2 separate regions of the Homo sapiens genome follow, and region 2 is linked to region 1. Evidence: fine-mapped expression QTL. A gene starts in region 1. The other region holds a variant in brackets. All regions are shown on one strand. Distances are between the middles of the regions. Region 1 holds the start of LASTR (lncRNA associated with SART3 regulation of splicing). Region 2 has its middle 10 kb from the start of CALML5.

Region 1 (5,236 bases):
AGGAGGCTGAGGCAAAAGAATACTTTGAACCTGGGAGGCGGAAGTTGCAGTGAGCCAAGATCGCACCATTGCACTCCAGCATAGATGACAGAGTGAGACTCCGCCTCAAAAAGAAAAAAAAGAAAAGAAAAGAGTCACCCTGCAGGAACAATGGCCATTATCTGTCACACGGCTTTTGGACTTACCATTTGCCTGGATGTCTTTGTGTGAAGAAAGCCAAGTCCCCTACCCACCACCTCCTCATCCCCCACACAATCATCTCCATGCAGTTTCACCTTCGTCTTCCAATACCGCACATCTGTGACACGCTGCGAGCAGTGCTGCACAGAAGCATATTTTAAAAGCTTCCTATAACTTCCCCGCCTCTTGTTTCTTTGGTTCAAGAACAGTTGACCCATGGGGCAGGAAAGTATATAAAAATATCCCTATGGGCTGGGCACGGTGCCTCACGCCTATAATGCCAGCATTTTGGGAGGCCAAGGCGGGAGGATCACCTGAGGTCAGGAGTTCAAGACCAGCCTGGCCAACATGGTGAATCTCCATCTCTCCTAAAAATACAAAAATTAACCGAGTGTGGTGGTGCATGCCTGTAATCTCAGCTGCTTGGGAGGCTGAGGCAGAAGAATCACTGGAAGCCGGGAGGAAGAGGTTTCAGTGAGTCAAGATCATGCCATTGCACTCCAGCCTGGGTGACAAGAGCAAAACTCCAACTCAAAAAATAAAAATATCCCTGTGCACCCAGAGGGGGCCCCGATCTCAGGGAAAGGTTGATCTTGGGAGAGGCAGGGCATAGATTAAAAACAATTGTCTAATGCACGATTAAATACGTTCATGGGCTTGCACAGTGTAAGAGCTCAAGAGAGACTTAGAAATAACAGAGTACCTCCCTCCCTCTGCCTTGCAGACAGGGAAAGTGGTTCCAAAAACAGGCTTTCGAAGCCCCAACATGTTTGTTTCTGAGCCCTCACATGGCTTCTTAGCAGTCTTTGGGCTTTCTAGCTCAGGTGCATACACATCAGACACATTTTCATTGAGCTCACAGGAAATCACTGCAGCTCACACAGCTTCCTCAAAAAGGCAAAAATCACCGGGAGAAAGTCACAAGGTTTAAGAACTTTCTCAGCCCCAAAGGGTTAATGGAGGCTGGCAATGCAGCATGATCCCACCCGGGCTTGGACAGGAAAAGAACTCAGGAGCTGTTTTTCTTCTCCGAAAGCCAATCCCAGTGGAGGCACTGGGGTTTTTAAAACCAAATGTCTCTACAGCTTGAAATGAACGACTGCGTGACCTCAGCCGTCACACACACATGGCCCCTGCTGTTAAACCCTGAGCAGGGCTGGGCTCAGGGCATCCCGTAAATATTCGACGTCTGTGAGGCACATGTGGGAGGAAGAGCTGCCATCAGAAGTGGTTTCAGCTGGAAGGCCAGAGTCTCTCTCTCTCTCTCTGTGTCTGTCTGTCTCTGAAAGTTACCGTCATCTGTTAGCAATTTCCCCACTCCCATTAAAGCCAGACACTGGATCCATTTGCGTTGCTGCAGACCACCATAAGGGATTCATTTTTATTGCTTGGATGTGAGTCTCTGAACCACATCAATTACAGCCCTTTGTGTTACCGACCAGGTAGTATGAATGAGACGATGACAATCTTACTGCAGAATGGTTCACAGATTGTACCGAGATGGAATTCTCCGTTCACTGAGAGCAGAGGAGGGAAAAAAATCTAGATTCTAGGCTACAGAGACAATTCAACTCCCACAAAATGTGAGTGCCTTATCAGTCTCAGCAAAACCTCACTCCTGCAGGTGTGGACAGTTGGGACCTGAAACTCAAGTGGAAGGAGTGATTTCCAAAGCTACAGAAACAAACATAACATGATTGTCATTACTAGCAATCATGCATGAAAAATTGAGTCATTAACCCTGTGGAGATATTTCTAAAACACACATTGGACCCAGACTGGAGAACTGAGTTTCCTGCTGCTTCTTCCATGAATTTGTGCCGTGACTCTGGGAACGTCATGCAGATGGAGCCTCAGTTTCCTCTTCTGTCCAGTGAAGGGCTGAAGGGTTTAGATGATCTGAATTTCCCTCCATCTCTAGCTCTCTAGGACTCTAGGCACCTTTATAAAGTGGGGAAATAGAATCATCAGGATAAACTCTTGCAGAAATCATCATACTGGGGCAGTGAGGAGAGGTGAACCATGCTGAGCACTGCACAAAACATTTCGGACAGAAAGTCCTGTGCCTCCCCCAGCTTTCCGTCTAAGACAAGCATGCATGCAATAGCAAGAATCCCTAGGCACAGGACTGAACCAGGACTCCCGGCCACAAAAGCTGCCATGGGAAGCTATAGCTTCTCCAGCTCCTCAGTGGCACCGTTCAGCCCTCAAGGCAGACTCTCACCAGGAGAAGAGCCAGGGTGGCTACGCTGTGGGAGCAGGGGACCCTAAAAGTGCATGGAGAGCGGCCTTCACCCTTGCAGGAAATGCCTGAGCCTCCCAGATGGGCCTGACCTGGCCCGAAGATACCACCCCTCTTAGAGGGGCCTCACCAGCTGACAGATCCATCATATCCCGGCAAAAAGGGGAGTCTGGAACCAGGACTTCACCCACTGTCTTCTCTCTTGCTCTCTTTTGTTTTCTGCAAGTGATGGATGGACGTACTTTGAAGGAAGTTCAGCCTGATAAGTCATTTCCTCCCCCGAAGGCATCTGACTCACCTCTAATTCACCTCCCATGAGGCTGCTCAGGACAGACAATGTGGATTTTTTCCTGAGTTGTAATATACTGTGGCTTCTTCACTCAAGCCCCCACAAGTAGCTTTGCCTGTGCAGGAAACCCAGGCTGGGGCCCTCGGGGCTTGCCGTCATCCTGCTTTTCTGCAACATATCCACCCATCTCCCGTTTCCACTCCAGGAGAACAGAAGGGTGACGCTGCCCAGACTCACAAGAGCTCGGGGTCCAGCTGTGGGGTGCAGCCAGGACCCAATGCCATGTCTGATCCCCACACGGGAGACCACCAGCCTGCTTCGCAAAGGAGTTCAAAGGAAGCAAGCACCAGCCAGGCGAGACACTCATCCAGCTGTGAGCATCACGGCCTAAAGGCAACATGCAGGGGCTCTTTCCCATTTTTAATGGAATCTTAACTGTCCACCAACCACGTCTTCCAGATTTACCCACAAGGCTTGACAGCGTCAGAGGAAAGAAAGGAGATTCTCCCATCCCGTGCTCTTCTTTCTCTCTGCTGGGCGGTTGTGTGTACAGAGCGCAGGCCACCACACACACACACACACACACACACACACACGCATACACACATACACGCACACGCATGCACATACACACATACACACATGCACATACACACATACACACACATACACACATGCAGAGTGCAGTTCGTAGTGGCCATGCATGAGCAGCCCCATCCAGGTGGGCAAAGGGAGTGATGATGAGCAGCCTGGGCCCGAGCTGTGGTCAAGACAGCCCTGCCCCATCGGTTTCAGCCACCCGGAGCGGCCGCCCCACCCGCCTCCTGCAAAGAGGTGAGCTGCCCCTGCCCACTGCTGCTCCAGCTCACACCCGTCATCCGTGAGCCATTACTGACTACCTACAGGGTGCGCCCGCCGTGGTCTGCATGTCCCACAGAAATTACCCAGGGCTGGCCCAGCGGCTCCCAGCAGACGGCCAGGCATGTGCTCCCAGGGGCACTGGTCCTAGACAGATGAGGACACATAGGGACTGACACCCCTGAAAACGCCTGGGGCAGCAGGCGAGTCACCAGGAGGAGGACTCAGGAGCCGGAAAGGAAGGGCCCATCCCTGGAAGCGTCTGAGCAGAGGCTGGGCAGTCCCAGCAGGGCAGTGTCAGAGGGGACTGGAGGCTCCAAAGCTCTGCTGATGCTGAGACCCTATGAGGCTGTGTCCCACCAAATGAGCCTGCTGAGCTCACAGGCCTGCGTCCCACCAACCGGGAGTGCTGGTCCCACAAGGCTTCATTCCACCAATGGGGCCTGCTGAGACCCCATGAGGCTGTGTCCCTTCAACTGGGCCTGCTGACGAGTGAGCTAGAAGTGGATTTCCTGGAAATGAAATCCATGCCATGACCTGAGAAAGGAGAGTGGCTGAGGAGAGGGCAGCAGGGGATGCCCCCCTCATGGGGGGATGCTCCCCACCCCTCCCTTTAGTACTGAGGGACCCCAGCAGCTGCAGAAGACCAGGGACCAGGGGCCGCTGTCATGGCCTGTGTTGAAATGTGAATGCCTCAGGTTTCCTCTCCCTGAATTTTCCCCTTTCCTCTTCCCTGTTTACCTTTCTGCCTCAATATCCCTGAGTACAAATCGCAAGGACACCAACAGCGGCTTCAGTGGGTCCTTGTGTGAGCCAGGCACATGTACTATTATCTCATTTAATCCTGAGGGAGGCGTGAGGCAGGCCGGGGCAGAAACAGCCTGCACATTTTTCTAGCTTTTGGTTCTAAAACCCCAAGCCCCTGGGAGAAAGGGGAAGGTGGAGTGGGCAGAGAGGGCTTGAAGAAGCTTGAGGGGAGAAGGATCTCCCCAACAAGAGATTAATCAGGCCTGATAGGAAGCAGCCAAGGGAGAGGTAGAAACAACAACAGAGGGAAAGAGAGAGAAGGAGAGAGAGAGAAGAATGAGAGAAAGAGAACGAGAGAACAAGAGAGAGAGGAGAGAGAAAATGAGAGAAAAGGAGAACGAGAGAGGAGAGAGAGAGAAGAACGAGAGAGACAGAACGAGGGAGAGAATCAGAGAGAAAGAGAACAAGAGAGAGAACGAGGGAGAGGAAAGCAAGAATAAGAGTGAGAAGAGAGAGCAAGAACACAAGAGAGAGAAGCAGAGAGAGAGAGAAGAACGAGAGAATGAGAGAGACAGAATGAGAGAGAACAAGAGAGAAAGCGAGAGAGAGGAGAGAGAATGAGAGAGAGAGAAAGAACGAGAGGAGAGAATGAGATAGAGATGAGAGAGTGAGAATGCAAGAGAGAGAGGAGAGAGAGAGAAGAACGAGAGAGAGAGAACAAGAGAGAGGAGAGAATGAGAGTGAGATGAGAGAGTGAGAATGTAAGAGAGAGGAGAGAGAAGAACGAGAGAGAGAGAACAAGAGAGAGGAGAGAGAGAACAAGAGAAAGAAGAAGGAGAGAGAACAAGAGAGAGACAGGAGAGAAAGAACAAGACAGAGAGAACAAGAGGAGAGAGAAAGAGAACAAGAGAGAACGAGAG
Region 2 (5,236 bases), 110 kb before region 1:
TCCTCTTCCTCTTCTCCTCTTCACAATGTCTGACAGTCCACACATCCAAGAGGGAAGGAGAGGGTTTCCAAGATACCTCAGACTCTGTGTGGATTCAGATTCTGCCTTGAAGCTGGTGGAGCTGGAGATTAGGAAGGGCCTGGGCCTGCAGGCGGAGGAGAGGCAGCTGTCCCTGCTGACTCCCCTCTCCCTGACCCTCCCCTCCTGGTCAGCACCTTCCTGGCTTGAGAGGAGTCCAGGACTTTCCTTTTCTCCAAATTCTGGAGACAGGCAGGCCCCAGGGTTAGAAGCAGCACCTTCTACCCTGTTCCGATCACAGCCTGAGTCTTGGACAAGGGCTCCTCCGGCTCTCAGTGGCTCCAGGATTCTGAGAACTCTGACATGCTTCCACCATCTGACAGGCAAGAGGCCAGATGGGCCTGGTTGGCCCACCCTCCCGATGGTACCAGCAGTAACTCTGACCCGGCAGGGTGTGGACACGGCTCAGCCTGGTGGGGCTGGAGTCTCTCCCGTCCCCTGCTCACTCCCCTCCCACCTCGTCCAGAACTGCTCAAGGCCCCGGGGTTACTAAGTCAGGCCCTGTCCCTCCAACGCCTTCCTCTCTGCTTCCCCTCCCCACGTCCCTTCCTTTCTCTGCTGACTGCCTCCACCTTCCCTCCTGTCCTAATCAGCTCAGGCTTAGGTGGCCGAATCTGCCTCCTACAGGGCCCATCTCCCTTGCCCTCCTTCATACCACACATCACTGCCAGCATAAGCTTCCTAAAGCACAATTTGGCCGCACGTCCCCACAGGTTAAAAACCTTCCGTGAGTCTCCATCTGATCTTCTGGGGAAGAAATAGCACTAATCTTGGTGACATTATGCAAAACACTTCTGCGGCCCCACAGACGCTGTTCTTAGCACTTTCTCCACATCCCCCACCCCCCACCCTCCTCACAACCACGTTGAGGCGGGTCTCACTGTTACCCCCAGCTACAGTTGAGGAGACTGAGGCAGAGAGAGCCACTGACTTGCCCAAGGCCATATCACCAGGCTTCACTGGGACTTGAAAAGGATCCAGACTCCTTCAGCAAACCATCAGGCTGTCTGCGACGGCATTCGGACCTCTCCCTTACCTCCCAGGCAGCGCGGGCTCCCCAAAAGACACTGACGCTCCCACTTCCAAACCGTCACTCATGCAGTTTCCTCACCAAGAACGCCCCACCCCTGTTGAAATCTGCCCCCGCCTCAGTGCCACTTCCTGGAAGTCTGTCCCCTTCTCTGAGCACCTCCTCGAATGGGAATCCACTGACGAGGGACCTGACCCACTGTCTTTGCATGGCCATTTATGTTACATCTCCTGGGCCCAGAGGCCGGCGCAGCGTCTCCCTCCAAGTCCCTGCAGACTCACAGTAAGGAGAAGCACCCAAGGAAACACTTGTAGAATAGTGAGTGAGTGAATGAAAGTCACCAACACCTCCTCCATGAAGCCACGACCACAAGGCTCCCGGTGCAGGAAAATACTGTTCATCAAAAGCACTGAGATTTGTTTTTGTTTGTTTTGTTTTTGTTTTTGTTTGAGACGGAGTCTTGCTCTGCCGCCCAGGCTGGAGTACAGTGGTGCGATCTCGGCTCACTGCAAGCTCCGCCTCCCAGGTTTAAGCAATTCAACTGCCTCAGCCTCCTGAGTCGTTTGGATTATAGGTGCCTGCCACCACGCCTTAATTTTTGTATTTTTAGTGAAGATGGGGTTTCACCATGTTGGCCAGGTTAGTCTCGAACTCCTGGCCTCAAGTGATCCACCTACCTCGGGTTTCCAAAGTGCTGGGATTCCAGTTGTGAGTCACCGTGCCCGGTCCAAAACACTGAGATTTGACTTCTTCCTAGGCCAAAGGTCATCTGGGCAGCAAGGCAGGAGCTCCCGGATCAGGAAAGTGCAGGCACACCATGTCTCTGAGTGGTGGGGTGGGGACAGAGGCTGGCAGGCCACCAACAGGGCAGCATCTGCTCCCAACCAAGGTGACTCAGACCTCGCCTTGTCCAACCTGCAGGCCTCCCAACAGTGGGGCTCTATAAGGCTGGCGTTCGCCTCCAGGGTTCTCCCCGACACTGGATGCCAACCTGCCCAGGGGCAGAAGGGAGGTTGGGCGTGGGGAGTGCCGGGTACAGTCAGAGTTGCCAGGACAGTTTGGAGCAGTGCCTCTTAATCTTGGCCGCACAGCACCTGGGAGCTTTAAATAGACCCCCACGCCTGGGCGCCCCCACCGCTGACCCACCAGGGCTCAGTGCAGGGGGATGGCTCACACGGCACATTCTCCAGAAGCTCCTGGGGTAGCTTCCAGGTGCAGCCGGGGTTGGGAATCGCTGGCTTATGCAACCCAGCAGAGAGGCGGGAAAGGCAGAGCTGAGATCGGGTGGGGCCACCTGTGGTGGGGAAAGAGATGAGCTCACACCTGGAGATGGTAAACAGTGCAAAAGCAAGAAGAAGCTTACAGAAGGAGTCGTTGGGCCTTTGCCCCAGCTGCAGCCACGTGAGAGGGAAGCCAGGGGAGGAGCAAGGTGCAGGCATCTGTGGGCTGGGCAGGGCCTGACTGCACTGGGCCCAGGCTGGGAAGGCCTCACCTGCTTCTCCAGCGGGAACGGAGGGCGACCTGCGCAGCCTAGGCACTGCGGCCGTGGTTCACATGCAAAAACTAAAAGCTGGACTCATTTCCAGAGAAACTGAGATAGAATACTCTACCTAAATTGTTTCTGGAACACATGATCACCATACCTGTTGGGAATCTGTTCTTGATGAGTTTTGTTGTTGTTGTTTTTATAAAAGGGGGACCCACTGTGGAGAGAGAAACAATGGCTTGAACTCTTAAAAGCTGGTCTTAGAGGTCTGGAGTCCACATCTTTGACTACCTGGCAGGGTGACATGCCTTTGATTCTCCCTATGTTTGGACCAAGAGGGGATGAGTTGGGATTTTGTGATCATACGAGGACTATTTTCATGGTTCTTGGACAACAAAAAGAGAGAACAAGACAGGAGTCCTCTCTCTGCAGTTGCATTTCTGACTCTTCCTCTTGTTGCAGAGTACAACTCTGTGAAGATTTCCTTTAATCCCATCAGCACTACGGAAGCCATCTCCCCCATGCTGGAGATGAGGCCTCCC[G/A]GGCAAAGGAGCCTGCCAGGTCGTGCCATCACAGTGCATGTGGAGGGTTTCATGCAGAATCCAACACACTTGAGGAGCCTGTCATCTAGTTTAAGCATTGATGGGCTTTATTTCACTATTCAGGGTTCTGAGGATGGAGAATAGGCCTTGTCCACTAGGAATGACGTAAGAGGTGCACTCTGGAAGGAACTGTACAAATAGGGAGAGATCACCTTCAGCCATTTGCTTGGAAAAGAGGTGCAGAGGAACCCCCTCTGCGCCAGGCCCGGCTGTGGAAAGCTTCCAAAAGCAGGAGGCATTTGATGTGGAACTTAACAGAAGGATTGGGTCACCAGGCCTACCAGGATGGATATAAACTAGGATTTAAAAGATCCAGGGGGCAATCCAATGAAGAAAATGTATTATTTCGTATATGAAATTTGAAACATGTATTTGGATCAGAAGTAGAGTAATTCAATCTACCGACAAATCAATCTACTGAAGAACCTCTTGGAAGATTTGGGGGAAGTTTTGCTTTACTTGAAATTAGTTTTGGTTTCCCCAATGCTGTCCCACCCAAGTCAACTCCAGTAGCTTCATGAGTGCAGTTCTCCCCTGCTGAATGTCAGTTTCATGTGTGATTCATATTTCAGACTCCAAGCACTTACCAAATACTTAAACCACTTGCAAAATATCCATTTGATTGAGCCAGTGAATAAATCAGTGAATTGAAAGAAGTACTAAAGCAATAGATTTAAGTTGAAATTCTATTAGGGGAAAGAAAGCTGCCAATCTCTAAAATCCTGGACGTTGAAGACGTGTCCAATGGCTGAATCTTGAAATGAACCAGAAGCTCTCTTTCTCCAAAACCATTGAACCAAAATGCTAAAAATGAAACAACAAAACAAAAACAGACAACTTTAAACACTGTCAGGTTATGGTACAATGGTTAGGTGAACTGACTGCCGCTAAAATAATTTACTAAAAGTAGAACTGAACAAAACTAAAAATTTAAACTCAGTAAATAAAACGTCAAAGAAATAGTCAACAACTTAGAATAGCTCATCCAATATGAATTTCTGTGATCTTTATTAAGTATCCTTTAAAAAAAACTTTTTAGTAAGTTGGGAAATACCAGCACGTTTACCATTTGCAGAACTAAGCTTCTGGCAAGTCAATTTTCAGAGAAGCAGCTTTCAAAGAACTGGGTTTTCCTAAGTGACCTGAAGCTGCGCCAGCTGCTCGGATGCTTCCTGGGCTCTGTCTACTCTCTTTGGTGTTCTGAGCTGAGACCGGGCACCCTTGTGGACCCAGACGTGGAGCATAGCCTGGTCTCTGCCCTTGAGGGTCTTCAAGGCCATTCAGAGTCGGCAGAGAGGCCATGTCTGTGCATCTCTCGTAACTCACAGTCACCAGCTTCCGGAAGACATTCCACTATGTGGGTCCCAACCAACCCCACCACCAGACCCCCACCTCAAAACCAGTCCCTGGGCAGAGTATGCCCAGGAAGCACCCCTTGAAGGCAGTCCCCTGACCCCCTTCTGAGCCCTTGAATTCCACTCCAGGTCCTTCTTAGCACCTCGCTCTAAGACCTGAAGTGAGCCACTTCCTCTCCAGTCCCTCAAGTTCCCTTCTTCGTCTCTTGGGACAGTAGATTCAGAGAATCTGCTGCTTTCTTATTGCTTTGTGGCCCCATCAAAGCCCTTCTTAAGAATGGGCTCAACAACAATGAACAACTGGCTTAGAACACCCTGTCTCTGTTATTCTGTCTGCCCCAGACAGGTCTTCTGCCTCCCTAGGCTGTCTGAGTGGCTTCACTTCTCTCCTTCCTTAATGCTTCTCTGATTGCCCATTCCCCAGACCTCCAAATCAGCACAGAGCTTCCTGCCACAGCCCTCTTTGTAGGGGGCTCACCCCTGCCCCCCTCCCTGGGTCCAACTGCCAAGGCCACAGCCCTGGCATGGGCACCCAGACTCCCTGATGCCAAGTCGGCCACAAGCCTGGAGCAGGCCTTGGCTCTGGGATTCCAGACTGTATTCCCATGACATGATGGATGTTCTGAGAGGGACAGAATCGCCGAACTCAGGCCGGGGATCCTGTCTCTCCTTCACTGTTCTTCAC

The links. PIP is the estimated chance that this variant, and not a neighbour inherited with it, causes the effect.
Region 2: its variant is the best candidate, but not a certain one, in a credible set for the expression of LASTR in sun-exposed skin (GTEx, PIP 0.59).

Annotation. Positions count from the first base shown.
Region 1 is chr10:5,593,459-5,598,694 of GRCh38, forward strand. LASTR (lncRNA associated with SART3 regulation of splicing) reads right to left here and starts at 2,660. Exons shown (of 2, transcript NR_134491.1): 1 at 2,553-2,660; 2 at 1,526-2,121. RefSeq lists enhancers at 2,568-2,862, 3,148-4,020.
Region 2 is chr10:5,486,490-5,491,725 of GRCh38, forward strand. No RefSeq gene overlaps it. Among named protein-coding and RNA genes, the nearest start is that of CALML5, 10 kb to the right of the region's middle. The variant G/A (reference allele first, on the strand shown) is at 3,137.